Regions from separate parts of the Homo sapiens genome. Here regions 1 and 3 are each linked to region 2. Evidence: fine-mapped expression QTL. A gene starts in region 2. Each other region holds a variant in brackets. All regions are shown on one strand. Distances are between the middles of the regions. Region 1 has its middle 78 kb from the start of CREB1. Region 2 holds the start of CREB1 (cAMP responsive element binding protein 1). Region 3 has its middle 25 kb from the start of CREB1.

Evidence for each region. PIP is the estimated chance that this variant, and not a neighbour inherited with it, causes the effect. A credible set is the group of variants that fine-mapping cannot tell apart.
Region 1: its variant is the best candidate, but not a certain one, in a credible set for the expression of CREB1 in whole blood (INTERVAL, PIP 0.81).
Region 3: its variant is the best candidate, but not a certain one, in a credible set for the expression of CREB1 in whole blood (INTERVAL, PIP 0.89).

What each region holds. Positions count from the first base shown.
Region 1 is chr2:207,446,635-207,457,440 of GRCh38, reverse strand. No RefSeq gene overlaps it. Among named protein-coding and RNA genes, the nearest start is that of CREB1, 78 kb to the left of the region's middle. The variant G/T (reference allele first, on the strand shown) is at 5,249.
Region 2 is chr2:207,524,122-207,534,927 of GRCh38, reverse strand. It overlaps CREB1 (cAMP responsive element binding protein 1), which reads right to left and starts at 4,966. Exons shown (of 8, transcript NM_004379.5): 1 at 4,794-4,966. It overlaps LOC124907970 (a long non-coding RNA gene), which reads left to right and starts at 5,331. Exons shown (of 3, transcript XR_007088060.1): 1 at 5,331-5,492; 2 at 6,315-6,411; 3 at 8,996-10,806. RefSeq lists enhancers at 2,248-2,747, 2,748-3,249, 4,838-4,937, 5,198-5,397 and silencers at 3,658-3,827, 4,538-4,587, 4,618-4,747, 5,418-5,597.
Region 3 is chr2:207,499,311-207,510,116 of GRCh38, reverse strand. No RefSeq gene overlaps it. Among named protein-coding and RNA genes, the nearest start is that of CREB1, 25 kb to the left of the region's middle. RefSeq lists an enhancer at 6,519-6,578. The variant C/T (reference allele first, on the strand shown) is at 5,547.

The DNA.
Region 1 (10,806 bases), 77 kb after region 2:
GCTCATTTATTTTTATTTTTATTTTTGTAGAGATGGAGTTTTGCAGTATTTCCCAGGCTGGTCTTGAACTCCTGGGCTAAAGCAGTCCTCCTGCCTTGTCCTCCCAAAGCACTGGGATTACAGGTGAGCCACTGCACCTGGCCGACAACAAAAGATTTTAAAGGCAAATACAAAAGGTTGCATAGTTGTGAATAAAATGTAATCAAAGACCTAATAAAATACAGCATGAAGCCCAAAAATGATCTTGATAAAACACAAAATCTTTGTTTTCTAGGTCAGTTACTGAAAAGGAGAAAAAAAAAACCTTCACATTCTCAGACCAATACTTCTAGAAAACTTTGTTACTTTAACAGAGAAGACCAAATTCCACTTTTGCATTAGCGTACTATTAATACTAAAGCTAATTTTAAATAAAATCTTTTAATAAATTCATCCAATCTTAGTTTTGATCACAAAAGATAACATTTCCATAAATCATTTAAAACTTAAAAAAAATTCAGCCTTTTTAAAAAACAAAAATGTGTCATTTACATAACTTTCCTTATCAAATGCATCTTATTTCTAAGCAAAGAAAGTTTTCCCTCATATTTTCTGGCAGTTTAATTACATATGTTAATTATAACGTTTAACTCTTAGTAACCTTATTTCTTTTTTTCTTTTTTTTTTTTTTTTTTTTGAGACTGAGTCTTGCACTGTCGCCTGGGCTGGTGTGCAGTGGCGTGATCTCAGCTCGCTGCAACCTCCGCCTCCCAGGTTCAAGTGATTCTCCTGCCTCAGCCTCCCAAGTAGCTAGGACTACAGGCACGCGCCACCATGCCCGGTTAATTTTTGTATTTTTAGTAGAGACGGGGTTTTAGTATGTTGGCTAGGCTGGTCTCAAACTCCTGACCTCGTGATCAGCCGGCCTTGGCCTCCCCAAGTGCTGGGATTACAGGCGTGAGCCACCATGCCTGGCCAGTAACCTTAATTTCTAGTGAAAACTAGCAAGCATTATAAACTCTTTTATAACAGCATTCATCATTTCATAATTTCTAGAAGCAATTTTTCATGTTTTTAACCAACTTCAATCTATTTAGCTTCTCTGTACTATATAAAAACAAGATGCCAAAGTACATAAACTTGTGCCTAGTAATTAGTGTTTCAATATTTTTAACTTACTTAGAAGTGACCCAGATATTTAATAAGTATCTATTACTTAATTTCATTTTAAGGTTTCAAGTTACCAAAAAGATTTTAAAACTATTTTTAACTAGACATATTTTCTAAAACATAATTGTTATTGAAAAACTTTGCTTATAAACTATTATCCTACTTATATTCATCTAATTCACTCATTCTTTTTTTTAAGTTTCAAGTTTTAATTTTTGTGGGTATGTAGGTGTCTATATTTATGGGATACATTAGATACTTTGATATAGGCATGCAATCCATAATAATTACATCATGTAAAATGGGATAGCTTTCCCCTGAAGCATTTATCCTTTATGTTACAATCCAATTATGCTTTTAGTTATTTAAAAATGTACAATTAAATTATTATTGACTACAGTCACCCTGTTATCAAATACTAGGTCTTACTAATTTTTTCTAACTTTTTTTGTACCCATTAACTCTTCCCACTTCCCTACAAGCCCCCTTCCCAACCTCTGGTAATCATCCTTGTACTCTCTATCTCCATGAGTTCAACAATCGTTTTAATTTTTTTTTTTTTTTTTTTGGGGACAGACTCTCGCTCTGTTGCCCAGGCTGGAGTGCAGTGGCACAATCTCGGCTCACTGCAACCTCCGCCTCCTGGGTTCACACCATTCTCCTGCCTCAGCCTCCGGAGTAGCTGGGACTACAGGTGCCTGCCACCACGCCCAGCTAATTTTTTGCATTTTTAGTACAGACGGGGTTTCACCGTGTTAACCAGGATGGTCTCGATCTCCTGACCTTGTGATCCACCTGCCTCAGCCTCCCAAAGTGCTGAGATTACAGGCGTGAGCCACCACACCTGGCCAATCATTTTAATTTTTAGCTCCCACAAATAAGCGAGAACATGAGTTTGTCTTTCTGTGCCTGGCTTATTTCACTTAATACAATGAGTCCCAATTCCATCCATGTTGTTGCAGATAACGGGATTTCATTCTTTTTTATGGCTGAATAGTACTCTATCATGTAAATGTACTACATTTTCTTTATCCATTCATCTGTTGAGGGACACTTAGGTTGCTTCCAAATCTTAGCTATTGTGAACAGTGCTGCAATAAACATGGGAGTGCAGATATCTCTTTTTTTTTTTTTTTGAGATGGAGTCTCGCTGTGTCTCCCAGGTTGGAGTGCAGTGGCGCGATCTCGGCTCACTGCAAGCTCCGCCTCCCAGGTTCATGCCATTCTCCTGCCTCAGCCTCCCAAGTAGCTGGGACTACAGGCGCCCGCCAACACGCCTGGCTAATTTTTTGTATTTTTAGTAGAAACGGGGTTTCACCGTGTTAGCCAAGATGGTCTCGATCTCCTGACCTCGTGATCCGCCCGTCTCGGCCTCCCGAAGTGCTAGGATTACAGGCGTGAGCCACCGCGCCCGGCCCAGATATCTCTTACATATCCTGATTTCCTTCCTTTTGGGTATATACCTAGCAGTGGGATTGCCTGATTGTATGGTAGCTTTATTTTTACTTTTGTGAGAAACCTCCAAACTGTTTTCCATAGTGGTTGTACTAATTTATATTCCCACCAACAGCATACAAGGGCTCCCTTTTCCCCAAATCCTCTCCAGCATTTGTTGTTGCCTGTCTTTTGGATAAAAGCCACTTTAACTGGAGTGAGATGACATCTAATTGTAATTTTGATTTGCATATTCCTGATGATCCATGATGTTGAGCCATTTTCATATGCCTGTTTGCCATTTGTATGTCTTCTTCTGGGAAATGTCCATTCAAATTTTTTTTCCCGGCCAGGCGCAGTGGCTCACCCCTGTAATTCCAGCACTTTGGGAGGTCAAGGCGGGCGGATCACCTGAGGTCGGGAGTTTGAGACCAGCCTGACCAATGTGGGAAGCCCTGTCTCTACTGAAAATACAAAATTAGCCAGGCATGGTGGCACATGCCTGTAATCCCAGCTACTTGGGAGGCTGAGGCAGGAGAACCTCTTGAACCCAGGAGGTGGAGGTTGCAGTGAGTTGAAATGGTGCCATTGCACTCCAGCCTGGGCAACAAGAACGAAACTACATCTCAAAAAAAAAATTTTTTTTTTTGGCCAATTAAAAATACGTATTCATTTAGTTTTTGAGACAGGGTCTCACTCTGTCACCCAGGCTGGTGTGTAGTGGCACAAACACAGCTCACTATAGTCTTGACCTCCCAGACTCAAGTGATCCTTCTGTCTCAGCCTTCCGTGTAACTGGGACCACAGGAGTGTGCCCCCATGCTTGGCTATTCTTTTTTTATTTTTTTTTAGAGACTAGGTCTCACTTTGTTGCCCAGGCTGGTCTCACACTCCTGGGCTCAAGCGATCCACCTGCCTTGGCCTCCCAAAGTGCTGTGATTACAGATGTGAGCCACCATGCCCAGCCTTGCCCATTTCTTAATTGGATTGTTAAATTTTTGCCTATATAGCTGTTTGAGCTCCTTATATATCCTAGTTATCAATCCATTGTCAGATGGGTAGTTTGCAAATATTTTATCCCATTTTGTTGGCTGTTTCTTCACTTTGTTGAGTGTTTTCTTTGCTGTGCAGAAGCTATTTAAGTTGATGTGGTCCCATTTGTCCATTTTTGCTTTGGTTGTGTGTGCTTGTGGCGTGTTACTCTTAGATTTGCCCTTTTGAGGCTATTTTCTAGATCTTGTAGGCATGCTTCATTCTTTTTTATTATTTTTGTCTTTTGTCTCCTCTGTGCATTTTCGTGTAGGCTGTCTTCAAGCTTACTAATTCTTTCTTTTATTTGATCATTTCTGTTGGTAAGATACTCTGATGCTTTCTTCAGTATGTCAATTGCATTTTTCAACTCTAGAATTTCTGCTTGGTTCTTTTAAATTATGTCAATCTCTTTGTTAAGTTTATCTGATAGAATTATGAATTCATTCTCTGTGTTATCTTGAATTTCTTTGAGTTTCCTCAAAGCAGCTATTTTGAATGCTGTGTCGGAAAGGTCACATATCTGTTTCTCCAGGATTGGTCCCAGCACCTTATGTAGTTCACCTTATTTAGTTCATTTGGTAACTCACTCATTCTTTTTTTTTTTTTTAAAATAACTAAGTGCTTTTATTTTATTTTTTGATTTTTTTTTTTTGAGACGGAATCTTGCTCTGTCATCCAGGCTGGAGTGCAGTGGTGCAATCTTGGCTCCCTGCAACCTCTGCCTCCCGGGTTCACATCATTCTCCTGCCTCAGCCTCCCGCATAGCTGGGACTACAGGTGCCCACCACCATGCCCAGCTAATTTTTTGTATTTTTAGTAGAGACGGGGTTTCACCATGTTAGCCAGGATGGTCTCGATCTCCTGCCCTTGTGATCCGCTAGCCTCGGCCTCCCAAAGTGCTGGGATTACAGGCGTGAGCCACCACGCCCAGCCAGTAACTCACTCATTCTTAACAATTTTATGTGAACTGTTCATGACAATTTTATGAGACATCAAACAAAGCTAACCTCTGTCTCAAGTTGTTTTTGTTGTTGACAAATCAGGCAAGCAAAATATCATAGAAGCAAAGAAACAAGAAAGTTAAACATGGTTCTTTCCTCTTTTTTTTCTCCGTGACTGATGTGCATCAAGCAATTCAGGAATTCATTTTTACTGTGTATTCTGTTTGAAGGTTGCGTTTATAATTTTATGACCTTAACCATCTAGCAGAGACAATACACCTGTCTGGCCAGCAAACGCAGGCAAAAATATATGTCTGTATTATATTTAATGACATAAACATACAGATAGAAGCAGATCTTACATCTTTTACTCTAACACTTTTAGCCTTGCACCAAGTCTGATAATTCAAGACTCACTAGCTAGACCTGATAAATGATACAAGTTAAGATTATCTGCTCAGATGGCTAAAGCTTTTTTTTTTTTTTTTTGAGTTGGCGTCTAGCTCTGTCACCCAGGCTGGAGTGCAGTGGTGCAATCTCGGCTCACTGCAACCTCCGCCTCCCAGGTTCAAGCGATTCTCCTGCCTCAGCCTCCCTAGTAGCTCGGTCTACAGGCGTGTGCCACCACGCCCGGCCAATTTTTTGTATTTTTAGTAGAGACGGGGTTTCACTGTGTTAGCCAGGATGGTCTC[G/T]ATCTCCTGACCTCATGATTGGCCCGCCCTGGCCTCCCAAAGTGCTGGGATTACAGGTGTGAGCCACCACAGTTGGCCTGGCTAAAGCTTTTTTACTAGTTTTTTTGTGGAAAAGGCTTTTAAGATTTTTTATTTGACCAATTTCTAAACAGTTCAGTTTTTTTCTTTTTGATGACAGTCATCTCCCTGACAGTCATCTCTTCTGTATCTATGGATTCTGCTTCTGTGGATTCAACCAATCAGGAATTGAAAATATTGTTTTAAAGAGCACGCATCTCTACTGAACATGGACAGACATTTTTCTTGTCATTTTTCCCTAAACAATATAGTATAACAACTACTTACATAGCATTTACATTATATTAGGTATTATAAGTAATCTAGAGATGATTTTAAGAATATGGGAAGATGTGCATAGGTTATATGAAACTACTATCTTATTTTATATCAGGGACTTGAGCATCCATAGATTTTGGTATTTGTGGGAGGTACTAGAACCAATCTCCTGTGGATATCAAAGGACAACAGTATTTCCAAATGGTAATGATCAAATTCTAGAGAAGAAAGGGTAGAAAATTTATATCTCAAAGGCACAGAGAAAGAATGCAAGTTTTTCCAAGAAGGAGTTTGAGGTGTGTCAGTTAGGTGACACATAGAGGAGGACTCAAAAGGATTCTGAGGCGACATAAAATTATAGGAATTCACTACAGGATTCTACAAGGATGTACATGGATAGTCCTAGGAGAAGGTCCAGAAGCCCACCTAAAGTTTGACTATAGAGACTGAAATTTTTCTTACCTTTGGTGTTTCCTGTTAGTAATTTTTCATCCACTGACCACTAAATGGAGGAGGTAAGGATTTGAAGGAGAATAAATCAAGGATTCGAGAGAACTGGATGGCAGATTGTAAGTGCCAAAGGGAGGAAGGAGGAACAGAAGCAAATGGAAAGAAGTCTTACAGGAGCTAGTTTGGGGAGGTCTCAAGTTTCCCAAAAAGGTACATGAATTTCCACATTATCCTCAGCGAAAATCATGCCAACAAGAAAAAAAAATGTGGACAGAGGGACTGACCATATGGTTAGCAGGGGTTCAGTAAGAGAGGTTTCAGTAGACTGAGACGTTCCTGTGATAGAAGCAGGATCCAACAGACAGAACAACAGAGGGGACTTAACAAAAATTGTAGCCTGAATATCAGCTTCCTATTAAGCTAACTTCTGACCATAGAGCTCTTAAAAAAAAAATTATTTCAAATATCTTATAATTTCAGCAAAGGCAAATAACAAATATGCCTGGCCTTTTTTCTTCTTATTTTTCTTTCTTTTAAACTGGAAGTATCTACCAAGAGATTCAGAACCAAAGCCAGTAAGTGTTTTTGGATTTATTGGACAGGACACACTATGAGGAATCAGAATGAACAGGCCTTGCTAAGTTTCTTTCAGAACCTTAGTTCATACCCTTTTGTCCTGTCATGTTTTTGCATGACTTTTCACTCTTTATCAAACCTGGTATAAAAACACTTCAGCTTAATCGTTTCTTTGGGTCTTCATTTTCTGATGAAGGCTCCTGTGTCATGTAAAACTTCCATTAAATAAATGTGTATACTTTTCTCTTGTTAATCTGTCTTTTGTTAGCCTAATTTATAGAGTCCCACCTGGAGAACCTAAGATGGATAAAGAGACAAAGAGATTTTTTTTCCTCTATCCTACAGTACATATTAAAATGCAGGTAATTATGTTCTTTTTCGTTTTTGAAAAAAGCTCAAAATGCCATGTAAGTGCTTAGTCCAGGAAGGAAAAAGCTTTATAATCTACTTTGTTCATGAGATGCAGTAACAATAAGCAGAACATCTGTTCTGGAAGCATCTGTTATATCAATTACATGGCAAATTTTCAAGTTCTAGAATGAATGAATTTGTAAGTGGTGAGAATTTTTGATAACCAAGAGAAGACAGGATCTAGAGAAGAGAGCAGGTAATGAGCTGAGAATATAGCATGATCTTGATGGTGTCTGTGTTTTACTGCAACCTAGAAATTACGTGCTTTTACATGCAATATTTTTTTCCCCCACAAAATGGTTCCCAAATAAACAGTTAAAGTGGTTTTAGGTGATTAAAGCAATATAGAAGATTAGTTTTGTTATATATAATCACCTTTGCTTCTCCTTTATTGATGAAAAGAGCTTTTCTCAGTAGGTTGTGTTATCTATTTTAGATATTGCCTGATCTTGTTTTTTAAATGTAAATCAGCTTTTTAATCTTTTTTTATGTAAATTTGATAGCCAGTCCCAGCAATTATTCTGCTTTGTTGTAGCTCCCTCTTTAGAGCTGTCTCTATTTTATGTTTAATTGTCCTAATTGTCCAAATTTGAATAAACCTGGAGAACAGCAATGGAGATCATTACTTGTTTTTAAATTTACAAAAAGGTTTAAGCACTCCTTCCTGAACTTCTCTTTAATTCTTTACACTGTTAATTATGATCTGGGAGATTGGAAAACCTTATTATTGTCCCTGGAGCTGCTACTCCAAATTATAGGTTTGTTTATTCTTGTGTTACTACTTTATATCAGACTTCTCTTTCTATGAACATGATAAAAAACTCATCAGAGAAAATTTGTTAACTTCGCTTTTTAATCAGTCAGGATTTTAGCAAGGGGGTATTTAGGTGAAGAGGTGTATTAGGTAGTTTTAGAGGTTGGAGCAAATAACTGCAGTCCTGGCAGGGGAATTCGTCCATTTCATCTCTCCATTCCTCCACCTACTTACCTATGTATCAATGTATCAATTTTTGGAGGGCTTGAACTGGATGACATATCAATTCAATGGGATTATATTCTGACTTAATAATTTTTAGAAAATAGTAGATTAGATTCTAGGTCAAAACGGTCTGAATTTTGAAGTTGATTTAGCTCATAATTAAATTTGAAAAACCAAATACAGGAGAAAACCAAGAAGGTCTTATCTCAGTTTATTGAGTTCTTTATAGTTTGGGTTTTATGCTTTGGTTCAACTCAAGGCCTTGGTCAGGAGGCAGGATACTTGATTTAGCAGTTGAGCATGAGGCTCAATTATATCTAGTACATCTATGTCCAGCGCATCTATGTCTGGTACAATGTCTCTAGCTAGAAATTTTTTTTCTGTCATCATGCTGAGAAGCCATCTTTAATTCATTCACAGGTTCACTAAGCAGCTAGGGATATTTGGAATGAACAGAATGCATGTTAATTTCTGGTGAATCTGACATGCTAGATTGGATGTGCTCAGTTATCAGTGAGAGAAATACTTCGTATAATATAGGAAGTCACATATAGATACGCAGATAACTAACTTCACTGATTTTTGTGGCCACACCTGTTCAGGACTGCCTAAAGAGATTGAACCTGGCGATGACCTTGGACAAGTCTCAAAAACTCTCTGAGGTTAATTTCCCCATCTATGAGGTCAGGAATAGGAATAATTCTCAGGGGCATAATATAAGGAGAACAGACAAGCATCAGTGTTTTAGAGAAGCTCCATTATCATACACAAGGTCAGATCAAATGAAAATGAAATGTTCTCTTATAGCATCTCTGAGTTTCAGCAAGTAAATTCTAGTCATGCTTTGTATTCACAGACAGGAAATGTCTGTTCAGAAGGAATGAATAATAGATAACTACTTTCTTTGCTTTACACCTAGTTATAATTCTACAACTAACATAATATTAAATGAGTTCCCTTCCTCCCAGTGATGTTTCATATTCTGGTTACATACTGTAACCTTAAAACTCAACAGCATGAAAAATCAAACAGCTGGAGAAAATGTATCTTTAATTTTCCCACCAATTTACCACCCCCTGCCCTCTTGCTCCAGATTATCTGCCCAATTCTTAGATAAATGGTGTATTCTAAGTCCGTCTACCCTCATAAAGATGATGGACCCCAGCCAATCTTAGGTCCAGTTTCTCAGATCCAGTTTTTATTTGCTGGGTTTTAAAACTAAGGTTTGCTTTGACAGTGGTGTGTTAAATACCTCATGTGCTGAATCATACCTCAAATAAAGCTAACAAAATTTTTTTTTTGTAATTGCATGTTAAGTGTTCATTTTTGGTGTTAAGTAATTCATGAGTAGTAATTTATGTTTAGTAAGAAGTAGTAATAACTCTTAACCTGGCTCATAAGAATTGTAAACTATGTTATTATATATGATATATTACCAGTAAGAAGAAAGGGAATTAGGGTGAAAGAATGACATAATTTTGACCTGGAAGAAATCATGGACAAAATCTTATTAACTGTTCATTGAAGCAGTGAGGGAACAACGGGTCTGGAGGAGAAATGACTTGTTCAAGGTCACACAGCTGGCTAGCTTCAGAGTTGGCCCTAAAAGTCACAGTTTTTGGCATCTGGTCCAACACACTTTCCATCACAACATGCAGCCTCTTAGTTTGTTGGTTTTGGGTCAGAAATATAATTAACACAGGGCAGGAAGCCTAGATTATGAAAGAGTTGGAGGAGAATCTAATGAAAACCAAGCTTTTCTGAAAGTCCTGGGCAGTTGACCTGTTCTGTGATATATTCATGGTGTCCACCTGCAATTGGAATTTGGCAAGTGGCTCCTCTTTCCTCTTTGACCTCCTAGTTCTCTTCCTAGACTGGTGATTTAAGAGCTTACAGAGAGTGCACAACTTCTAGAAGAGTGAGAAAAGTAATATAATAATAAATAGCAGTAAACAAAAAAGTACAGAGAAAGAAAAAAAAGAGAAGAAAGTAGTACAGTAATAAAAGTACAATTTCAACAATTCTGATGTGAGATGATGAAGCAGTGGACGGGGAATACCCATTCCAGAAGTTGAGCTGTGATAAAGAAAGAAAAGTAGGATGTGGTGTCTAATGATAATAAAAAATAATGGCAGCTTGAAAACCAAGATGCTGTAACTACAAAAGGAGCAGGGTTTAGGGTTCTGATGCAGACCCATTATCCACACAGACGACATGGGCTGCAACCAAGTCACAGGGGATTGTAAATCAACCCCATACCCACACAGATCCTATTTAAACGCACACACACATATAATACATACATGCATGTATATATATATTGTAGGACTTTCCCCTTGGTTCAGCTAAAAGCTGGGTTCTTTTCACACAACCTTGAAAGATTAGGCTCATAGATGCTTTGAAGGGTGAGAAGGGCAGGGTTTACTGGGTGAAAAGGAAAAAACGGGAAACAGGGACTCTCAGCAAAGTGAGAGTTTTGCTAGCAGGCTTCCCGCCTCACAGATTGATTTCCAGGTACGACCCCAGAACAGGAGAGGCCAGGCTCCTCCCCACTGCAAACAGCAGGAACTTCCCGAGGCTCCACCCCAGTGTGCGCTTCTCCCAGTGCGCAGGCTGGTTGGAGGTTCTCCAGTGACCCCTTTATGCTTGGCTGTCTCCTATATACATATATGTACATAGGTTTGGTTCCCATACCATAGTGTGGGAGTCTTTAGTTACCTGTATAATATCCATTGATAAAGAACATCTCCAGGAATTGTTTGAGATGCCTAATGGAACTCCTTAACAATTACAGTCAAGATTCCAA
Region 2 (10,806 bases):
GATATAGGAGAGCGTATACCTAGTATGCTACCATTTGTACAAAAAGGGGGAGACTGTACATACATATTTGCTCGTGTTTGCATAAAACACCTCTTAAAGGACAAATAAAAAATTGCTAACACTTAGGTAATAGGGCAAGAGAATGTAGGGCATTTTGCTGTTATTATGTTTTGAATTATAGATCATGTGAATGAATTACTTATTCAAAAAACCAAATTAGAAATATAAAAAATATACTCCTCACTTCACCAAAGGTGATCCCTTTTTCCTTTGACTGCTTTCTTTTGACACATATTTTGCCTTAGTCACTGTGTCCCCAACAGTTCCTGAGGGTAGAGATAAGACAGCGTAATTCATCTTTGGATTTGTTGTAGCTTCTGACCCACTGTATTACATATAGTAATAATAAATAATTTAAAAAGTAACAGACCAGCTGGGCGTGGTGGCTCACGCCTATAATCCCAGGCATTCAAGACCAGCCTGACCAACATGGTGAAACCCTGTCTCTACTAAAAACACAAAAATTAGCCGGGCGTGGTGGTGCATGCCTGTAGTTCCAGCTACTAGGGAGGCTGAGGCAGGAGAATCACTTGAATCCAGGAAGCAGAGGTTGCCGTGAGCTGAGACTGCATCACTGCACACCATCCTGGGCAACAGAGCAAGACTCCGTCTCAAAAAAAAATTAAAACAAAAGAAAAAAGCCTTGTCAACACTTGAGCACTTGACACTTGCACAATGCCTGGGACTTAGTATGTATTACTTTATAGTTAACCCCCACAATTCTGAGGTAGTTGTTCTACACTGATCAGAAAGGAAAGTGAGGTATTAAGAAGTTAAGATAACTTGCCTAAGGGCCCACAGGTAGGAAGTTAAAATAAAGCTTAAGGGACTAGCTATCATTAGTTGTAGCCCTAAGGTACTTTATGTTTATCTCGCAATCTTATGAAATAAGTAGTAGTATTCTAATTTTACATATAAGGAAACTGAGGCTGAGAAAGATTAAGAAACTTCCTTCAGGACACAAAATTCCTTTAGGGTGGGTACAGGATAGCAGTGGCAATGCTTGGATTCAGACCTAGGCCTATGATTCCAAACCTCATGCTCTTTCAACTACATTCTCTGTCACAGTGAGTGCCAAATAAATATTTGAATTACCATAAACTGCTGTCTCAAGTGATACTGCAGTACAGATGAGTTTACACATGGGTAAGAAAAAAAAAAATCCTGCATTTTTCCATCTTGACATCTCATTACATTCTTAAATTTAGATTTGAGCTCTATTCAATAAAGAAGCCATCAAAGTTACACCATATATCAAGATATTTGCAAAACTATGTCACAAGCTGGCTGTAAACAAGTTTATGTAACTCATATCTGATAAGCTATTTATGGAATAAATGAAATTATAAATTTCGGTAATATATTGTAAGCATTAGGTTAAAAATAATTTTCTGTTATAAAAAGTAGAATTTAAAAACACGTGAGGAAGACATACTTGGTTTTACTATAACCCCATAACCATACTGTATCCAAACAAACAAAACCAAATGTCTTAGAATGAGAGAGAAATAAAGCTACTTCTCTATGAAGAACCCAAAATTTCTAATAATGAGACCTAATCAAGAATATGAGTTTCAGAAAGTAGAAAAAGGTGCCATTTTTATGGATCAGGTGTCTAAGTTTCTTCAGGCTCTTTATGTAAACAAAAAAAAAATCATTCAAAACAGGTAACACTTAAGTTTTAAATTCCCAAAGAAGTGTTCTTTTAACATTCTTCAAGCAAACTCTGTCAAGTAATTTATTAGCTTTCTAAATGTAGGTGTTCATGAAAAAAAAAAAAAGATTCAAGCAGATCCAGCTGTAATTTTTATCCATGGCTGGAACAGTGCAGAAGTACAATTTAGTAACATGTTCCAGGTGAATGTTCAAGTATTAATGAATACAAGTTTGAAGTTTCACCTGGAATTGCTAAGAATCACAAATTATGAATGTATAAATAATAAAACAGGCCGGGCGCGGTGGCTCACACCTGTAATCCCAGCTACTCGGGGGGCTGGGGCAGGAGAATTGCTTGAACCCGGGAGGCGGAGCTTGCAGTGAGTGAGCCGAGACCAGCCCACTGCACTCCAGCCTGGGCAATAAGGGCCAAACTCCGTCTCAAAAAAACAAATAAATAAAAATAAAAATAAAAAATACAATTTAAAATATCTCTCGGGCAAGACTAAAGAAAGAACTTATCAGTAAACTTTTTTTTTTTTGAGATGGGGTCTCGCTGTCACCAGGCTGGAGGGCAGTGGCGCGATCTCGGCTCACTGCAATCTCCACCTCCTGGGCTCAAGAGATTCTCCTGCCTCAGCTACCCTAGTAGCTGGGATTACAAGCACGCGCCACGACACCCAGCTAATTTTTGTATTTTTAGTAGAGACGGGGTTTCACCATGTTAGCCAGGATGGTCTCGATCTCTTGACCTCGTGAGCCGCCTGCCTCGGCTTCCCAAAGTGCTGGGATTACAGATGTGAGCCACCGCACTCGGCCATCAGTGAACAATTTTTTAAAAATCTCACAAATGAAGAGTCATATATTCTTTCTTTTTTTTTTTTTTCTTTGAGACGGAGTCTTGCTGTGTCGCCCAGGCTGAAGTGCATGGCACGATCTCAATTCACTGCAACCCCAGCCCCCCGAGTAGCTGGGATTACAGGCGCGTGCCACCACACCCGGCTAATTTTTGTATTTTTAGTAGAGATGGGGTTTCATCATGTTGGCCAGGCTGGTCTTGCACTCCTGACCTCAAGTGATCCGCCCGCCTCGACCCCCCAAGTGCTGGGATTACAGGCCTCAGCCACCGCGCCCGACTTATATTCTTAACAAGAAAAAAAATTCTACTCTACTGATAGTGGCTTGCGGAACAACATAAAGGAAAAATGGTAAGCTACCATTATCAATACTATAATTTTTTCAGTGCTCGGAAATAAAATCATTTCCCCAATCTTTATAGAAAACCTGCCTTTATTGCCTCTTCTTAATTTTCTTGGAAATGACAAATTGCCAATGTGGTCTTTTAAAGAGAAGCAATACAGCAAAGCACGTTTTGGAAAAGTGACTAGAATACAGAAAAATAAGACAGTGCTTCTGCTGCCAATCAATATTTGTTCTTAACCAGAAGGTTTGTACGTATCAATCACAATGCAATCATACAGTGACAGACAAGTATTTTTAAAACAAACTTGTTCGTCTTTTGCACCACCTAAAATAACTGTTCGGGGCTTTACTTTTAAATCACGAAATGAGCCATAAATGTAAAAGATTTCAATAGGCAGCAATCAAAAGTATCTTCTACTAAACCTTCAGAAGTTAGACGCCAGCTGAGGTTAGAATTATAACTTGAGATGGTATTACAAACTTAAATAGGTCATACCGCACGTCCTTCAAAAACTGTCTTTTAATTTTTAATGTGTCAATGACTTTTCTGCTGTCCTCTTTTCCCAACAGGCGAAGAAAAAATACAGCTTGTGGCTTAAATTGTCAATCTCAAGACGGGGGTTACCTACTGCATGAGACAAATAATGGATACTTTAATGTCTATTTTTAGTAGTAGTATTAAATCAATCTCTCATTAAAGTTCACACAGAAATTCGTGGGAAATATGGTAGGGGGAGTGGGACGGAGGGTGAGGGGAGATCCAGATGACCCAAACGCGGTTGGCAAGGTTGCACCCCGCGAAATGATGTAAAACAAGAGTACATCGGCTGATACTCGTTCCAACGAAGTGTTTCAGAATGATAGATCTCAAGTGATGATTACCTTATTAAAAAGGGTTAAAACCGAAACTGTTTTCAAACACCAGCTTCCCTTTTATAAGATCCCAACAGTTTAAAAAGTTATTATAAATGTTTTTCTTAGCACCCTTTCTCCCAAAAAGCATGCATTTCCATGACTGACTTTAAAAAAAAAAAAAAAGCAAAGGGGTGAGGGAGTCAAAAATTCCCCCCAAAAGCACAAGCTCTCATCTCTCAACTAAGCAACACAGGGCAGAAAGCAGCATTTCCTCAACGGTGTAGGAGCGGGGGGGAAAGGGCACGAATAAAATACAGCACGAGAGGAAACCTTGGGTTTCGAACTTTATTGCACAAAGAGTGGAGAGAAGAGTAGGTCAGACGTTGCAGCTCTTCCCCTTGCGAAGCGGGCATGGCAGGCACCGAAGCCACCGGGAAGGCAGCAGGCACCTTCACCTCCTCTGCCCTCAACTGTCGCCTTCTTCCTCCTCCATCCCCCACCGGCACCTAGGCGGCGGCTGCCCCGGAGGCCCGGCCGGGTCGGGCCGGGGGCGAGGCGGGCGGCGGGGGCCGGACGAGCGAGCGGCGCGGGGGGCAGCGCCGGGCCGAGCGGGCGGCCTCCCCCGGGGCGGCTCCGGGTTCCCGGCTCCGCGCCCGGCCCGGCGGCGGCGGCGGGAACGCGGGCGCCAGCTCGCCGCGGCCGGCCGCCCGCACACACCCCCGGCCGCCGGCTCCCACCCCGCCCGCCGCCCGCCGCCCGCCGCCCCCCGCCATGAGCGCCGCCGCTGGCTGCAGGCAGAGTCGCTGCCGCCCCGGCCGCCGCTGGCTCCAGTCCGCCGCCATTATTCTTTGTTCGCTGCGAGCGGCGGCGATGTTGTGGGGCTCGGGCGGAGGCTCCATCTTTACCGCGGCCCCTCCTGCGAGGGGAAGGCCCCAAGCGCGGGTGTCCGGCGCCTCCCCGTCCCCCCTCCGTCCCCCCGGCTCTCTCTGGCTCCTGCCTCCTCCTCCTGCTCCTCTTACCGGTGGTACAAGCTCCTCCGTCACTGCTTTCGTTCACGGCCCGGATCTCGCTGGAGTTTTATTCTCTCCCCCACGTAACACACCGCGTCAAACTACACCTCCGCCGCGTCACTCACCAACACTCCGCTTCTCCCAGCCGCCCGGGCCACAGGCAGCAGCAGCCGCCGCCGACTGAGGAGCCGCAGCCAGGGAGCCAGCCAGCGCCGCCCAGTGCCGAGTGCGCAGCGGCCGCGCACGGAAACAGCCGAGCTAGGCCCGGAGCAGCTCGAGCGGCCCCGCCCCCGCGCTGGGGACGGAACTTGCCGAAGACCTTCGGGTTTCTTCGGGCGACGAGAAGGGGTTCCGCGGGGAGAGGGAAGGCGAAGGCGGGCTGAGCCCGGCGCCGGGAGGAGTGGTCTAAACTCCACCGCGGCTTTCGCATCGGTAAAGCCGGCAGCGGAAATTTGAAGGAGGAAGCGGGGTTTGTGTGTGGCCCAGTGGGGGAATTCCCGAGGGGTGTCGGCGACTTGGTGGAAACCCCCGCTCAGGCCTGCCCCTGCGGCGGTGAGCGGCGGGCTAGAAGGCGGCTGCGGCTGCCCTGGCTCTGCTCTTGACCGCCGCCAGCCCCGGGAACTTTCCGACGCCGCCGGGAGACGGGGGACGGGCAGCCCGGGCTGGGACGCGGCCGGACCGCTGGAGCCGTGCGGGCTGGGGAAGAAGGTCTGCTGCGCCTCTGCCAACGTCCCGGGGCCTGGGACCCGGGGGCGTCGTGGGACCCCCGTGGGGACGGGTTTTCCTTTCCGAGACTCCGCGGAGAAACCTGGCGGCCGCCAGCGGAGCATGCTTTTCCGGGGGGCGCTGGCCCCGATACTGTGGCACCTTGCGGGGCTCTGCCCGGACCATGGCTGACGTCGACGGCCCTCGGAGGCCTCCAAGCCACACAACCTGCCCGGACCCCTGGAAATATGCCCCATCCTACCTCCCCGCCTTTCTCCAGACAACATCCTGTGTCGCTTTCTTTCCTCAGCCTGTTTTCTACAGCAGGGATTCGCACCCACTGCACCCTAAACCCAGCAGGGGGACTTCCGTGGCTGGAAACTACTGAATTGTTCTTTCAGAGGTCTCTCAGGACGGCACCACTAGGTCCCCATTCTCCTTGATAGTGAACTCTGCAGCCCTCTCCTTGGGGTTTCAAGTCTTTTTTTTTTTTTTTTTTTTTTTAATGAGACGGAGTCTAGCCCTTGTCGCCCAGGCTGGAGTGCAGTGGCACGATCTCGGCTCACTGCAACCTCCGCCTCCCGGTTTCGAGCGATTCTCCTGCCTCAGCCTCCCTAGTAGCTGGGATTACAGGCACCTGCCACCACACCTGGCTAATTTTTGTGTTGTTAGTAGAGACGGGGTTTCACCATGTTGGCCAGGCTGGTATGGAACTCCTGACCTCAGGTAATCCACCCGCCTCGGCCTCCTAAAGTGGTGGGGTTACACGTATGAGCCACCGCGCCCGGCCTCAAGTCTTAATCATTCTTTTTCTGTCCTTTAAAGGAGACGTGTCTTTAGGAAGCAGAGAGGGTTCGATTCTGGACTCCGCCCATGACTCACTTCTCTTGTAAAGAAAGAGTTGTCCTTCCTGGTACTCCAGGTACCCTACTGTTTTCTTATGGACTTTGCCCTTAACGAGTCTCCTTTCCTTCTGTTACTCTCAACCTTTCCTTCTCTACCGGCTCTTTCTTACTGGTATTTAAACATGCTTAAGTCTTTCAATTCTTTAAAAAGATTTCTCTTCTCCCTAAATTGCTCTCCAACAACTGCAGCTGTCTCTTACCCCATGGACAGTCTTTCATGTCCCACCTCCCAGCCCTCTCCAGTGTCCCCACCGCTCACCTGAAGTGGCTCTGAATTGTCCACAGACAAGCTTCATGACTGTAAATGCAGCGGATCATTTTCAGTCCTCATTTTACAAGCCCTCATCCCAGTATTTGACGCGATTGACCACAGTTGCTTCCAAATACCCTCTTCCCTCTGGTCTTATGTCCCAGGTTTCCTCCCTACCTGAGTTTGCTCTTTAACAACCAGCTCCTCCTTGATCTACCTCTTACACATTGGAATCATGCTGAGCTGAACCCTGGCCCTCTTACTGAGTCTCCCCATACACTTTCCTAGGTGGTCTTATGCTCTCCCAGCAGCATCAAATACCCTCTGTCAAAGACTCTTCAATCCATAACTCAAGCCTAGATCTTGCTCTGGAATCCTACATTCATAGTTCCCAGCATACTGCCTTTGGTACACTTTCATTTGGATGACTTAGGGCATTTCAAACTCAACCCGTATATCATAATTCCTTCAAAACGCTCCTCCCATAGTCCCTGGTTCAGTAAAGGGTATCTTAACATCTACCCAGTTCATGCCAGAAACCTAGCACACCTCCAACACACAGCAGAATCACCTACATCTGTCTGCTCCCTGGAAAATTGGATTTGTGACCTCTCTCTGTTCCCATGACCATTTTTTCATTCCCATTCTAGTCTAAACCACTGTTGCCTCTTGCTTGAAGTCCCACAGTAACCCATTCAGGTCCTCCAAAACTGCTCTTGCCTCGTTCCAATACATTTGCCATACTGCTGCCAGAGTAATTTTTTAAATATAAATCTGATCATTGACCTGCTTAAATTCCTCCAGTGGTCTCCCTTTGCTTACCACACATTGTCTAAGCTCCATTATCTGTACTTGTCTTTCTCTCCAGCCTCTCCATCTGTCCCCCTAGCTGCCTGCACTCCTGCCATAGTATTTTAATTTTTTCCAGGCTCTCCTCTTTTTATTCCCTACTGTAGGCTCTCACTTCAGGGCATTTACACATGCCCTTCCCTTCCCCTGGAATTTTTTTCTGTCACCCATTCCTCCTACTTAACTGTAACTTATCACTTTCTTTTCCAATTCCTACTTCTCATTATTTGTTTAGTGTCCATGTAATTGTGCAGGTAAGGACCACGTCTGTCTTGTTCACTACCAGCTTTTCCTCTCCCTAGCAACAGCACAATGTCTAGAATATAGTGGTACTTGTTAGGTATTTATCGAATAAATAGTGAATTTCTGAGTGGTCCCGGGCAAAGTTTTCTCAACATTTGAATTCAAATCCTGGCTCTCAGTGAGTTCAGGTTGCCGTAGTAAAGTACCATATAGACTGGTGGCTTATAAACAACAGAAATGTATTTCTCATAGCTCTGGAGGCTGGATATCTGAAATCAGGCTGCCAACATGGTCAGGTTCTGGTGAAGGCCCTCTTCAGGGTTGTAGATGGCTGTTTTTTCCCTTTACCTCACAATGCAGAAAGAGAGCAAGAGCTCTCGGGTTGCTTTTATAAGGCACTAATCCCATTCACAAGGGGTTTACCTCCCAAAGGCCTCATCTCCTAATACCATCACATTGAGGGTGAAGATTTCAAAAATACGAATTTGCAGGAGACAGGGGTGGGGGTGAATTCATTGCACTGGCTCAGCCACTTATTAGCTAATGACTTTGGGCAAATTGTTCACTCTTGTGCCTCAGTTTTCCCATCTGTAAAATAAAGATGATAATAGCACCTCATAGTGTTATTGTAATGATTACGTGACATAATACATGTGAAGTATACTTGGAACAATGTTAGGAAAAATGTTGCCTATTACTAGCTTTTACTTGGATAGCTTATCCTCGTGTCAAATACGTTTTCAAAATTGAGTTCATCTTCCTGCTCTTCTTACCGTGGCTCTATACATGATATCAAAAAACTTTGGAATTATTTACTCATAACCTATAATTATCACCCACCAAATATGGTGAGTTTTTATTTAAAAATGTCCTCATATTCATTCTTCCTTTTTATATACACTAACCTTCATTTAGACTCTATTATCATTGATTATTTTGCTAACTTCCTAGGTGTCTTCTAACTGGAGGCTAGCTTTCCCTATTCATTTGGGCCCTTACTGTCAGACCAGTGGGCCTCAAACAATTATTAAAACATATATTCTTCTTGACTTCTGCTCAAATGACCTCCGTTCCCACCTAACTTTGTTCATTCATTTATTCAATCATCCATTCATTCCAATGCAAGTTATTTTACTACTAACATTTTGGGTATACTCTAGATTTTCAGCCTCTCTACTTTGACATTTCTCTCTTGGATATTCTCTCTTCGGATATACTCTAGCATTTTCAATCTCACTATCTGACATTTCTCCTTTCAGCATCCAAGTTTTGTCTCTGGGATTTGGAAGCCACCTGCATTTTAAAAGAAATTTTTTCCAGGATCAGTCTCTCGCTGTGTTGCTCAGGCTGAAGTGCAGTGGCTGTACACAGGAGCGGTCATCGCATGTGACAGCCCCACACCCCTGGGCTCAAGTGACTCTCTTGCCCTCAGCCTCCTGAGTAGCTGGGACTACAGGTGATCCCCCATTTTTGACTCAGTTTTCCAATTGCAAAATGTGGTCAATATCAGGGAGATGAAAGAGGAGCACACATGGATGTAACTTGATAGAGTATAAGAAAAGTATCTTGAAAGAGGTCCAGAATAGGGGGAAGGTCCCATAAGATGATTATAAAAGGCTTCAAAGAGAAAGTAGTATTTGAGAGCTTTTCTATAATCACAACTTCCTCTTCCTGTTATTTTTTGCTCATTTCTGCTGTCGAATATAATTTTCACCCTCACTGTGAGCTCAAGTTCCATGAACCCTGCCTGCCCTAGTTCATCACCTCCTGTGATTTGCTTTCCTACCTAACCCCAAGACCATGGTGACCTATTTCATTTATTCTAAAAATATCTGTGGAGCACCTCCTTTGTGCCAGGCATTCTTCTAGAGACTGGGGAAATTATGAATAAAACAGATTGTCTTTCCTCTCAAATGTCCTAACATTTTCAACTTCTCTACTTGGGAGGTAAACCCCTTGTGAATGGGATTAGTGCCTTAAAGCAAGGAGGGGGATATATTATGGGTTTCTTTCTTATTTGGTAAGATTTCCTATAGTCTTAATATAATAGATAGCAATAAATAAATACTTCTGGGTGAGGAATTAATTGAAATCCTCAGTATCCCTCTATTTATAATGGCTAAAAAAATGTGAATGACCCAAATGTCCCCATTACTGAATAGATAACCACTTAATTTGTTTTTGTCTCTTTTATATACATGTACCACTCTTAACTCTTATAACTATACTTATTCATTTCATGTATACTTACATATATTCTTTATTGAACCATGAACTCTCTAAAGGCAAAGTTGTGTTTTGTTGAACTTGTATCCTAGTAACTGTCATGTAATAGTAGGTGCTCAGCAGTGTCTGTTGAATGAAAGAGTGAATGAATGGTAACAGTTTCTCCAGCACTGGCCAAGGGAGTGTGCTCTACCCTGCTGATTCAAGCATCAGATCTACTCAGAAATTCTTCCCCTGCTGAGAAGAAGGGGATGCTGAGACTCTTCACAGTTGAAATCAATGTGAAAGGAGCTGTTATCAATGCTCACTAAGTAATCCTGTGGTTTTATTTTATTATTTATTATTTATTTGTTTAGTATTTTTGAGACAAGATCTCACTCTGTTGCTCAGGCTGGAGTGCACTGGTGCGATCATGGCTCACTGCAGCCTCTATCTCCTGGCTGAAGCAATCCTCCCACCTCAGCCTCCTGAGTAGCTGGGATGACAGGCACACACCATCATGTCCAGCTAATATTTTTAAATTTATTTTTTGTAGAGACGGGTCTCCCTGTGTTGCTTAGGCTCGTCTCAAACTCCTGGGCTCAAGCAGTCCTCCCACCTCAGCCTCCCAAAGTGCTATGATTACAGGCATGAGCTTACCACACCCAGCTGTGATTTTAATTTGACTTTCCAGATAGAAAAGAAAGCACTAATCTCTTCACAACTATTTCTGGTCTGTTTACCAGTTACATTTCCCCCATGCAAATTAATGTATTGTATCTTAAAACTGATTTTAAAAACCAGAAAAACAAAACAAAAAAAATTTTGGCTTTTACTTCCCCTTCCAGCTACTGTCCCATTTGTT
Region 3 (10,806 bases), 25 kb after region 2:
CCCTTACTGGCACACAATAAGCAATACACATTATGTTAAATAATTGAATCAAATAGATTTTGATCCAGAAGAAACATATAGCATAAGCCTAAAGGACTTTAGGGAACATAACTTAATGTACATTTTGGATTTGTAAAATAGGGCTCATCATAGTTATCTATCTCAGTCTCTATGAGAATTAATACAGGCAATATGAGTTGATATATGTAACAGTCTTTGGCACACGTCTTTTATTAATAGACTTTATTTTTAAGGAAAGTTTTTTTTTTCTTTTTTTTGAGATGGAGTCTCACTCTGTCATCCCGGCTGGAGCAGTGGCAAGATCTCAGCTCACTGCAATCTCCACCTCCCAGGTTCAAGTGATTCTCCTGCCTTAGCCTCCTGAGTAGCTGGGATTATAGGCACCTGCCACCACGCCTGGCTAATTTTTGTATTTTTAGTAGAGACAGGCTTTCACCATGTTGCCCAGGCTGGTCTTGAACTCCTGACCTCCAGTGATCCACCCACCCTGGCCTCCCAAAGTGCTGGGATTACAGGTGTGAGCCACCGCACCCAGCCCTAAGGAAAGTTTTGGACTTGCAGAAAAAGCAAGCAGATAATATAGAGAGTTCCCATGTAACCTCCCCACCCCACCCTACCCAAAGTTTCCTCTATTGCTGACATCTGACATTAGTATGGTACATTTGTTATAATTAATGAAGCAATATTGATAGAGTATTGTTTTGAACTAAAGTCCATAGTTTATTGAGAGTTTCTTAGTTTTTGCCTAGTGTCCTTTTCTGTTCCAGAATCCATCCCAGGATACTGTGTTATATTTAGTTGTCATGTCTCCTTAGGCTCCCTTGGCTGTGTCAGTTTCTCAGACTTTCCTATTTCTGATGACCTTGACAGTTTGAGGAGGACTGGTCAGGTATATTGTAGGTTGCTCCTGTATTGGAATTTGTCTTTGGCACATTTTAAAGCTTCTAAAAGTGTTTGTTACTGATATTATTGCTTCATATTCAGATTAAATGTGGAACAAAGCTAGGATATGGGCAGGGGATAGTTTTGTTGAAAATTTAGTATTTAAAAGATTTATTTTGAAGCATAGTCAATTTATCAGTGCCAAAAACGGACAAAATTTGGTTTGCCTACATCCATCCTTCCATCTTCCATTCAGTAAATATTGTGAGGATAGTGTGTATTAGATGCTGGGGATTCAATAATAAAGAAAATGTAACTGCTTTCATAGAGCTTCCAGACCAATAGGAAGAGAGTCAAACAACTAAAGAAATAATCTGCAAGATAACTTGTGACAATAAAGAAAATATTCTTATATTAAAGAACATCTTAGTAGGTGAGGGGAAAGGGGACTAACTTTATTAAGATCATGCATTAGGATATTATAGAGATAGAAAACAGAATAACAGGCTTAAACAAGGTAGAAATTTTCTGTTCAGGAAATCAGGGAGTCAGTTCAGAGCTAATATGGCAGCTCCACAGTGCCAGGGTCCCATACCCCTTCCACTTTGTTGCTCTGCTGTGCGTGGATTAATTTCTCAGCATCATCTCTTGTCTAAGACTATTTCTGGGGATCCAGCTATCACATCTGAATTCCAGCCATCATGAAGCAGGAGGAGTCAGAGAAGATAACTCCCCTTTTCACATTTCTGTTTACTTTTTGCTGTTTTGACAGAACTTTTTATTTTACTTTTTGTTGTTTCTGTTTTGACAGAACTTAGTCAAGGGGCCTTATGCAGCCACCTTACCTAGTCTCTTTGTCCAGGTGGCCATGTTTACCAGCTAAACATCAGAGGTTTTATTGCTATACTGGTTCTCACGCTATGGCGTGCATCGGAATCACCGGCAAGACTTGTTGAAATACAGATGACTGGCCCTCATCCCCAGTTTTTCATTCAGTAGGAGAATAAGAATTTGCATTTCTGACAAGTATCTATGTGATGCTGATAATGCTGGTCCAGGACCACATTTTGAGACCCATTGCTGTAAAAAGGGAGCATGGCCAGATACAGTGGCTCACACCTGTAATCCCGGCACTTTGGGAGGCTGAGGTAGGAGGATGACTTGAGCCCAGGAGTTTGAGACCAGCCTAGGCAACATAGCAAGACCCCCATCTCTACAAATAATAATTTTAAAAAATTATCATGCGTCTGTGGTCCCAGCTACTCAGGAGGCTGAGGCAGGAAGATCACCTGAGCTCAGGAGGCTGAGGCTGCAGTAAGGCTTGATTGCACTGCCACACTCCAGTGACAGAGTAAGACCCTCAGGTGACAGAGTAAGACCCTGTTAAAAAAAAAATGAAAGAAAGGAAAAAAAAAAAAAAGCAAGCATGGATATTGAGGGAACACTCTCTGATTTGGACCATGATATGGACTTTGATCATTTACATTTTTTGTACTGAGACAGACTATGCTTTCTTTTTTTTTCTTTTTTTATTTTTTAGATGGAGTTTCACTCTTGCTGCCCAGGCTGGAGTGCAGTGGTGCAATCTTGGCTCATTGCAACCTCCGTCCCCTGGGTTCAAGCGACTGTCATGTCTCAGCCTCTCGAGTAGCTGGGATTACAGGCACCCGCCACCATACTCGGCTAATTTTTGTATTATTATTATTTTTTTTAAGTAGAGATGGGGTTTCACCATGTTGGCCAGGCTGGTCTCGAACTGGTGACCTCGTGATCCACCGCCTCGGCTTCCCAAAGTGCCGGGAGTACAGACATGAGCCACCGCGCACGGCAAGACAGACTGTGCTTTCTTAGATCAGGTATCTGGTCTTTGAGATGTCTGTTCTGGGTAGCTTTATGCAATTTAGTCAGTTTTGTATAAGGTCTGTTTTCGTTATCTTACTGCTATGTAACAAACCACCTCAAAGCAAAGTAGCTTAAAACAGTCATTTGCTTATGACTGTGGATCTGCAATTTGAGCAGGACTCAGTGGAGCTCATGCTGGGAGTACAGGCATGAGCCACCATGCCCGGCGAGACAGACTGTGCTTTCTTAGATCAGGTATCTGGTCTTTGAGATGTCTGTTCTGGGTAGCTTTACACAATTTAGTCATTTTTGTATAAGGTCTGTGTTTTCGTTATCTTACTGCTATGTAACAAACCACCTCAAACAAAGTAGCTTAAAGCAGTCATTTGCTTATGATTCTGTGGATCTGCAATTTGAGCAGGACTCAGTGGAGAAGTCTGGCCTCTGCTCTTCATGTGGTGGCTGGCCTTGACTGGATAGAAGGATCCAATATGGCCTTCCTCACATGTCTGGAACTGGCTGTCAACTGGGGCACCTCGGTGTTCTTCTAGGTGACTCTCTAGCAGTACAGCAGTATACCCTGGACTTTCTTACATGGAGGCTTGGAGCTCCAAGGGGGCAAGATAGAGGTTCTAAAGCTTCTTTAGAAAGCCTAAGCCTAGCAATTAAACTGAGTCCTTTCTGCTAGAATCTCTTGGTCGAAACAAATAATGAAACCAGCCCAGATTCAAGAGGAGAGGAAGCAGACTTCATCTATTGATGGGAGGAGTGGCAAAGTCACAGCAAAAAAGAGCATGCAGTGGGGAGGGATTATTATAGCTATCTCTGCAACAGACTGCCACAGTCAGAAATGAGAATGCCAGTATTACAGTAGGAACCTCATATAATTGTCATGTGGACATAGACCTATCATTTATTGGATTTTATCCCTATCAGGACCAAAGTGTAATTTGGATAAAACACTTCCAAAATATTTTGGTTTACTAATAGAAGTGTGGCAAGATCAAACAGGGTTTTAGAAAGGTTTGTTGGTTATTGAAAAAATGTTTCCATTTCTTCACTGATAAAAAAGTTCAAAAATGGGGACAAGTTGAAAATAAGTTCATAAATATTTTTCTGCTGGTCTTCTTTAAATACATGAGTATTTTGATTGAAAGTTGATGTCAACTTTTGAAAGTCAGCATTTAAAAAAATAATGTTCTACCTATGCAATGTGAATTTCCACATAAAAGAGGTCATGTTTATAGTCTGTTTTTATATGTGGTATAATTTAGAGTATGAGAAAGAGACTCCTCTTTCCCTCCCCCATCCAATGAAATTTTTACCAGTGCCTGAAATATTACCAGGAGTGATTCACTATTTGTTTCAAGCATTGCTCACTTTCACTGGGTTTTAACATAGCAAATATTTCTTGGAAGGAAAGGACAGGAAGTAGCACTGTGGTATGAATAATTTAGAGAAGCATTCTTTCTGAGGTTCCTGGGTGTCTTTGGAGGAAGGCGGTTCTGAAAGGCAGGAGGTGGGTGTGGTGGAGCAGGGGAGGATGAAGAATGTGGGATAGAGGTACTGAGCCCACATTTCTCTACCTCACATAGCCTGCTGCTTAGGAGGCATGATTAGGCTGATGTGATTCTGAACCTACTTTTTATTTTGGATAGAACATATTGTACCTATAATATGGTATTCATGCTCTCTTTGTGTTTTTTCCTAAACACTTTTCCACAAAGGGTATTTATTTACCCTTAAAATTTTATCTCCAGTAATGTGCTTTAGGGCCTTTCTCTTATAATAACTTTTAGCTTTTGTGATTTTCCTTTGGAACTAAATATCCCTTTGAGCCTGTCCTTTTCATCCTATTTTCCAAGGTCTAAGACACAGTCCTGGCATTCTAGGGGCCTCTGAAATTGCTGGTCCACTGTGGGAAAATCCCGGCTTGGGCAGAGTCAGTGTTGTTTTGTTCGCCAGGTGTTGAATAGACTGCAGAGTGAAGCTGCCTCACAGCCTGTGTTTTCCTGGTTTGAATAGCAAGCTTAGTTACTTCATTGACTTTCTTAAGGGTACCCGGTTCCTCCTTTTAATTTATGCCTTTACCCAGTGAAAACTAAATCCAACTCAGAAACCCCTCATAATTTTATTCTAGGGAGTTACTTTTGTTTGAGGAGCTAATATAGTTACAGGACTGTGATTTTATTATTCCCACAGAAAGCAAAAAGCACGAGCCTGTTCTGCGGTTCAGATGAAAAGCTCTGTGACTAACAGGATTCTTTCTTCCTTTCTTTCTTTTTTTGGGTTCCATTTCTCTCATTAGCTGCCAGGTCGTTTCATGACAGTTCTCCCAGCTGAAGTGATTTATCACGTAGAGTGAAGAAGTGGGAACTGTGTCGTTTCTTTTTACCCCCTGACAGTGGGGCTTCTCCTCCTGCTGTCAGGGCACGCCAACAGCCCATTGCTTTGGTGGTATGGGCTGAGGAAAGGAAGCTTGACTTGTAACTATTGCGGTTCTGCAGAAGGCCCTGGCATGTAGGGCAGTGAGCCAGTGGCTGCAGTCTGCCTCCTGGTGCTCCCTCCTAAAGCCAAAGGCTCTTGGAAGAAAAGACTTAGTTTTGCAGCCAAACTAGAGGTGGAGGTCTTTCTGCGGTAGTCATGGTAATCTACTCAGTATAGATTTTATAGTTAAGCAGAGGCTGCCGTAAGGAAAACTGGGGCCAGAGCTGGACGGGCATTTGCCTCTTGAAAGGCTCTGCCTGTGGCTCCTCCTCCACCCCCAGCTGGCTGATAGGATCCCCAGGAATATCCACAGG[C/T]TGTTGAAGGCTCCTCGGTGTTAGTGTCCCATCCTGTCTTCCTTAGTCCCTCTTTTCTCCCCAACCATTTCATATTAGCAAGCACATTTTTTTTTAAACTTTTAAGTTCAGGGGTAATAGGTTACGTAGGTAAGCTGCAGGTTTGTTACACAAGTAAACTTGTCTCATTTCATCACCCAGGTATTAATCCTATTAGGTATTTTTCCTGATCCTCTCCCTCCTCCCACCCTCCACCCTCCAATAGGCCCCAGTGTGTGTTATTCCCCTCTGTGTGTCCGTGTGTTCTCATCATTTAGCTTCCACTTATAAGTGAGAACATGAGGTATTTGCAGTGTGACGAATCCAATAGTAGCTTACAGTTATGACAACAGCTGAAGAAGCTGGTGATAAAGGCATGTTTTGTCTTGATGTCAGTTAGAGGTCTACCTGAAAAATAGGTGAGCCATAGACAGTGAATAAATCAAACAAGTGCAAATTTGATAACAAGATGGACCAATAAGTTGTCAATAAGTGGAGAACAAATGTAATACAATTCCTGGTATTCTCTTGGAGAAACCTCTGCTTATGAGTCCTCTAGCTTTCAGCCTCTGTGCCTGGGCTCCATCTATATATCTAGACTCATCCCAGTTACTGAGCCAGTTATGACAAATAGGGAATATGTCAGTATACCAGAAAAGTATAATCCAGAAAAGAGAAACCCTGCTGAGCATTTGAAACAGAGGGAATATGCAGGGAACTGGTTATACAGGAGACAAAAGAGCTGAGAAGCCAAACAATGGATGGTGAGATAATCCAAAGAATTGTGATAGCAGAAAACCAGTACCACTTCTAAACTGGAGGTCAACAGGGAGGAGGTCGTATTTTTTTTTTTTTAAACCGAAGAGGAGGCACTAGGGTCATCTGTTGGGAGCTGGAGCCAGAGAAGAGATGCTGAGATACTGCCCAAGGCAGAGAGGGAGGAGGAAAAATATCCTGGGAAATACAGCTTGCAGTGGTCAGTCTCCTGGGACCCAGAGAACAGCAGCAGAGCGTGAGGACTGGCCCAGGCAGGAAGCCCCATGCAGTGTGTGCATGGGAGGGAGGGAGCTCAGAATCGAGTCTTGGCTGGGGGTGGACCTTGTGTCCACAGTTCTAGGGATGACTACTGCCTGCTGTGAAATCTACCAGTGGCAGCACCTTCTGTCATCACGAGGTCTGGTAGGGTGTGGTGGCTGAGAGAACTGTATCGTTCTTGATAGACATGTGGGTCCCATGGACATAAGCATTTATTCAAAACTAAGTGAGCTATAATATTTAAATTATACCTTGATAAAATATGTATTAACACACACGAAAAGCATCAGGCTCTGGAGTCACACTGTCTATGTTTGCTCCTTATGAGCTATTATGAACTGGACTGTGTCTTCCTCAAATTCATGTGTTGTTGAAGCCTCAGCCCACAATATGACTATATTTAAAGATAGGGCCTTTAAGGAGGTAATTACAGTTAAATGGGGTTCCTAAGGGTGGGACCCTAATCTGACAGGGCTGGTGTTTTTGTAAGAAGAGGAAGAGAAACCAGTGATCTCTTTCCACGAGTGCACAGAGAAGAGGCCATGTGAGGACATAGAAGAAGGTGGCCATCTGCAAGCTGAGAATAGAGGCCTCGCCAGGAACTAACCCTGCCAGCACCTCGATCTTAGATTTTGAACCTCCAGAATGTCAAGAAAATCTATTTCTGTTGTTTAAGCCACCCGGTCTGTGTATTCTGTTATGGCATCTGGAGCTGACTGATATATGAGCTATGTGACTGTGAGCAAAACACATATATTCTGTCTGCCTTAGTTTCTTCATCTGAAAAATGGAGATGATAAAAGTTCCCTCCTCATGGGGTTTTTGGCAGAATTCAGTGAAATATAGTTTAAAGCACTTGGCATGTAGACATGTAGTAAGTATGCCATGTAGCTTTTACTATTCATAAGCCTGAATTTTTGCCTCAGTATCCCTGCCCAGAATCTGGGTCTTCCCTGTAAATGGATGCTGCCTCCCAATTCTCTAGCCCCACACAGGATTTTGCCAGTCCCCTCTCTTGCTGTTCCTGGCACACTCCACCTTTCATTTCGGGTTCTGCTAGCACCACTCAGAACTGTCACCTGCTTTCCTTTTAGCTGTTTGCACTCCACTTGCCAACGTCATCTCCACCCTGAGATTGTCATGTCCTTATGATTATGTGCTTTGACCTATCTACCAAGTGGCTCATGGCTGAGCCAGCCTCTGTATCCATTTCCCATAACCCCATTCTCTCTGGTCCTGGTTCCATCCCATCAGCTTGTGTGCGTAGAATGGTACCCCATATTTCCTGCTTCCTTTAGCATTTAGGCTTTTTATACAGACTCATTGACCTGTGGCAACTCTAGATTTTTCTCTCTAGAAATGTATTGGGTTGGAAAGGGGCAAGTGGATAAGCTTGTTTTGAAGCTGCAGTTGCAGAGCAAGATTGCTGGTTTAGGTTTTGTTTTTAAATTTACGTCATAGGCTTACTTGGGTTGGATTTTAGGGGAAATTATCTGTGCACGTGGGGCCGTGGTCACAGGCCAGTTGGATACAACTTCCCAGCATCAGTCCTTCACTCAGCAAATTGTTACTGGTTTTATGTGGGCATTGGGACCTGTGGTTGTCTATCTGAGGTTTGTTGGGTGGTTTGCAAGCAGTGGTTGTCAAGTTTTCAGTGATTCCCTATGTGTATTTTCCGTTGCTGTATACCTCAAACTTAACAGCATCAAATAACACACATTTATTATCTCAGAGTTTCTGTAGTTTTTAGACTTTTAAAATTGCAAAATGATACAAGCTCATTATAACAAGTTTAAACATTGAGAAGTTTACAAAGTACAAATGATACATATGTCCTCCTTACTCCCCTCTATTCTGACTCTCCCCAGAAATAACTACTGTCAACTGTTAAGTGTATCCATTCCGATTTTTTCTATGCTTAGATGAAGACACATTCACACTCATGCACCCACTTTTTTCCCCACTTTTTTTTTTAAAACAAAACAAAACAAAACAAGAATGGCTCTTACTTAAATTAGGCAGGACTCTTGTTTGCAAGTGATAGAAATGCTGTGTGAAATATCTTAGGCAAAAAGAGGAATTCACTGCCAGAAGAATTTAAATCACAGGACTCTCTCTCTCTTTTTTTCTCTGCTTCTGTCAGATCAGCACTGTCCACAAGCTAGAACTGTGGTCACCAGGAGCTGCCTAGCTGACACCCTCAGGCTTCCCCATACGGAGAGCTTGTTCCTCTGCCTTCTTTTCTACATAAAATATTCCCAAGGAGGTCTTCAATTGGCCTCATGTATCATGGGCTGGGTGCAGTGGCTCATGCCTGTAATCCCAGCACTTTGGGAGGCCGAGGCGGGCGGCAGATCACCTGAGGTCGGGAGATCGAGACCATCCTGGCTAACATGGTGAAACCCCATCTCTACTAAAAATATAAAAAATTAGCTGGACGTGGTGGCACATGCCTGTAATCCCAGATACTCAGGAGGCTGAGGCAGGAGAATTGCTTGAATCCAGGGCGCGAAGGTTGTGGTAAGCTGAGATCGTGCCATTGCACTCCAGCCTGGGCAACAAGAGTGAAACTCCATCTCAAAGAAAAAAAAAAAGTACCTTTGCTGCAAGTAACAGAAAACCCAATTAAGAGTGACTTAAACAATAGGGGCTTATTCTTTTCACAGAACAAGATATCTAGAGGTAGTTGGTCATTATGTGGCTCAGTTGTGCCTGCATTCTGGGTCAGCTTCTCTGAAGCTCTCTAGGTCTTGCCCCCTGGTTGCCACATGGATAAGGCAGCTCTAAACACCATGTCCTCACTTGACAATGTCTTTCTTTTTTTCTTTTTTTGTTTTGTTTTCTGAGACAGGGTCTCGCTCTGTTGTTCAGGCTGGAGTGCAGTGATGCAATCACAGTTCACTGCAGCCTCAGCTTCCTGGATCAAGTGATCTTCCTGTCTTGGCCTCCCTAGTTGCTGGGACTATAAGTGCACACCACCATGCCCAGGTAATTAAAAACATTTTTTTAGTAGAGACAAGGTCTTGCTATGTTGCCCAGGCTGGTCTTGAACTCCTGAGTTAAAGTGATCCTCCCAAAGTGCTGGGATTACAGGCATGAGCCACCAGGCCTGGCCAGCAATGTCTTTCTTAATGTGGCTTCTCTCAAAAGCAAATTCTGAGACAAAAGCTTGTATGCACTGACTTGGGGAGGTGACTGCAGGGCGTAGGGGCAGGGATCAGGGCGGGGAGTGGGGGAAGCAGGGAAAGAGGGGCGGCTAATAGAAAGGTTCATTACTGAGCTGGACAGTGCCGTGAGTAACTGGTGCTAGATTTTGCTGGGACCTCCTGGGGGGCCTTGTGCAATGCATCTCAGAACTGTCAACCTGGGGGATCAAAGAGGGAAGCATTTTTCTGTCAATACTCACTCCTCTAACTAAACAATATAAGAAGGAACATAATTTCCACTTAGTGTTTATAAATATGTAGTATACATAGTTCATAGCTGCATAGTATTTTGTTATAAAAGTGAGCCTATTCTTTTGTTAATGGACATTTAATTCACAGCCCTGGTTTTTATCAAGTTGCTATAAACATCGAAAGGGGCGTGACTTTGGTGAGGGGGTCAATACCAGGACTGAGGACTCCTGTTTTATCCCATTTCAAGACTTTGGCTGGGTGAGGTGGCTAATTCCTATAATCCCAGCATTTTGGGAGGCCGAGGTGGAAGGATCACTTGAGTCCAGGAGTTCAAGACCAGCCTAGGCAACATAGCAAGCTCTTGTCTCTAGAAATTATTTAAAACTTAGCTGGGCATGGTGGTGTGCACCTGTGGTCTCAGCTACTTGGGAGGCTGAACTGGAAGGCTGCTTGAGCCTGAGAAGTCGAGGCTGCAGTCAGCCGAAATTGTGCCACTGGACTCCAGCCTGGGCAACAGAGTGAGACCACCATCTCAAAAAAAAAAAAAAAAAAAAAAGAAGACTTTGGCACATTAAAAAATATAGCAATATTTCATCTTGCTAAAACAATTATTTCACACTAACCTATTCAGAACAAAAATAGAGAAGAGGTAAAAATAGTTTCTAAGTAGCCAAATAGATGACAGACAGTCATGCATTCCAGATGGAATGGGCAGTCCTGCCTGCAGCGTCACTCTGGTTTTGTCTTAAATCTCATACACTTCACTTGTAAGTATCTTGTATCTTTATTAGGATCTCACTTTACCTCAT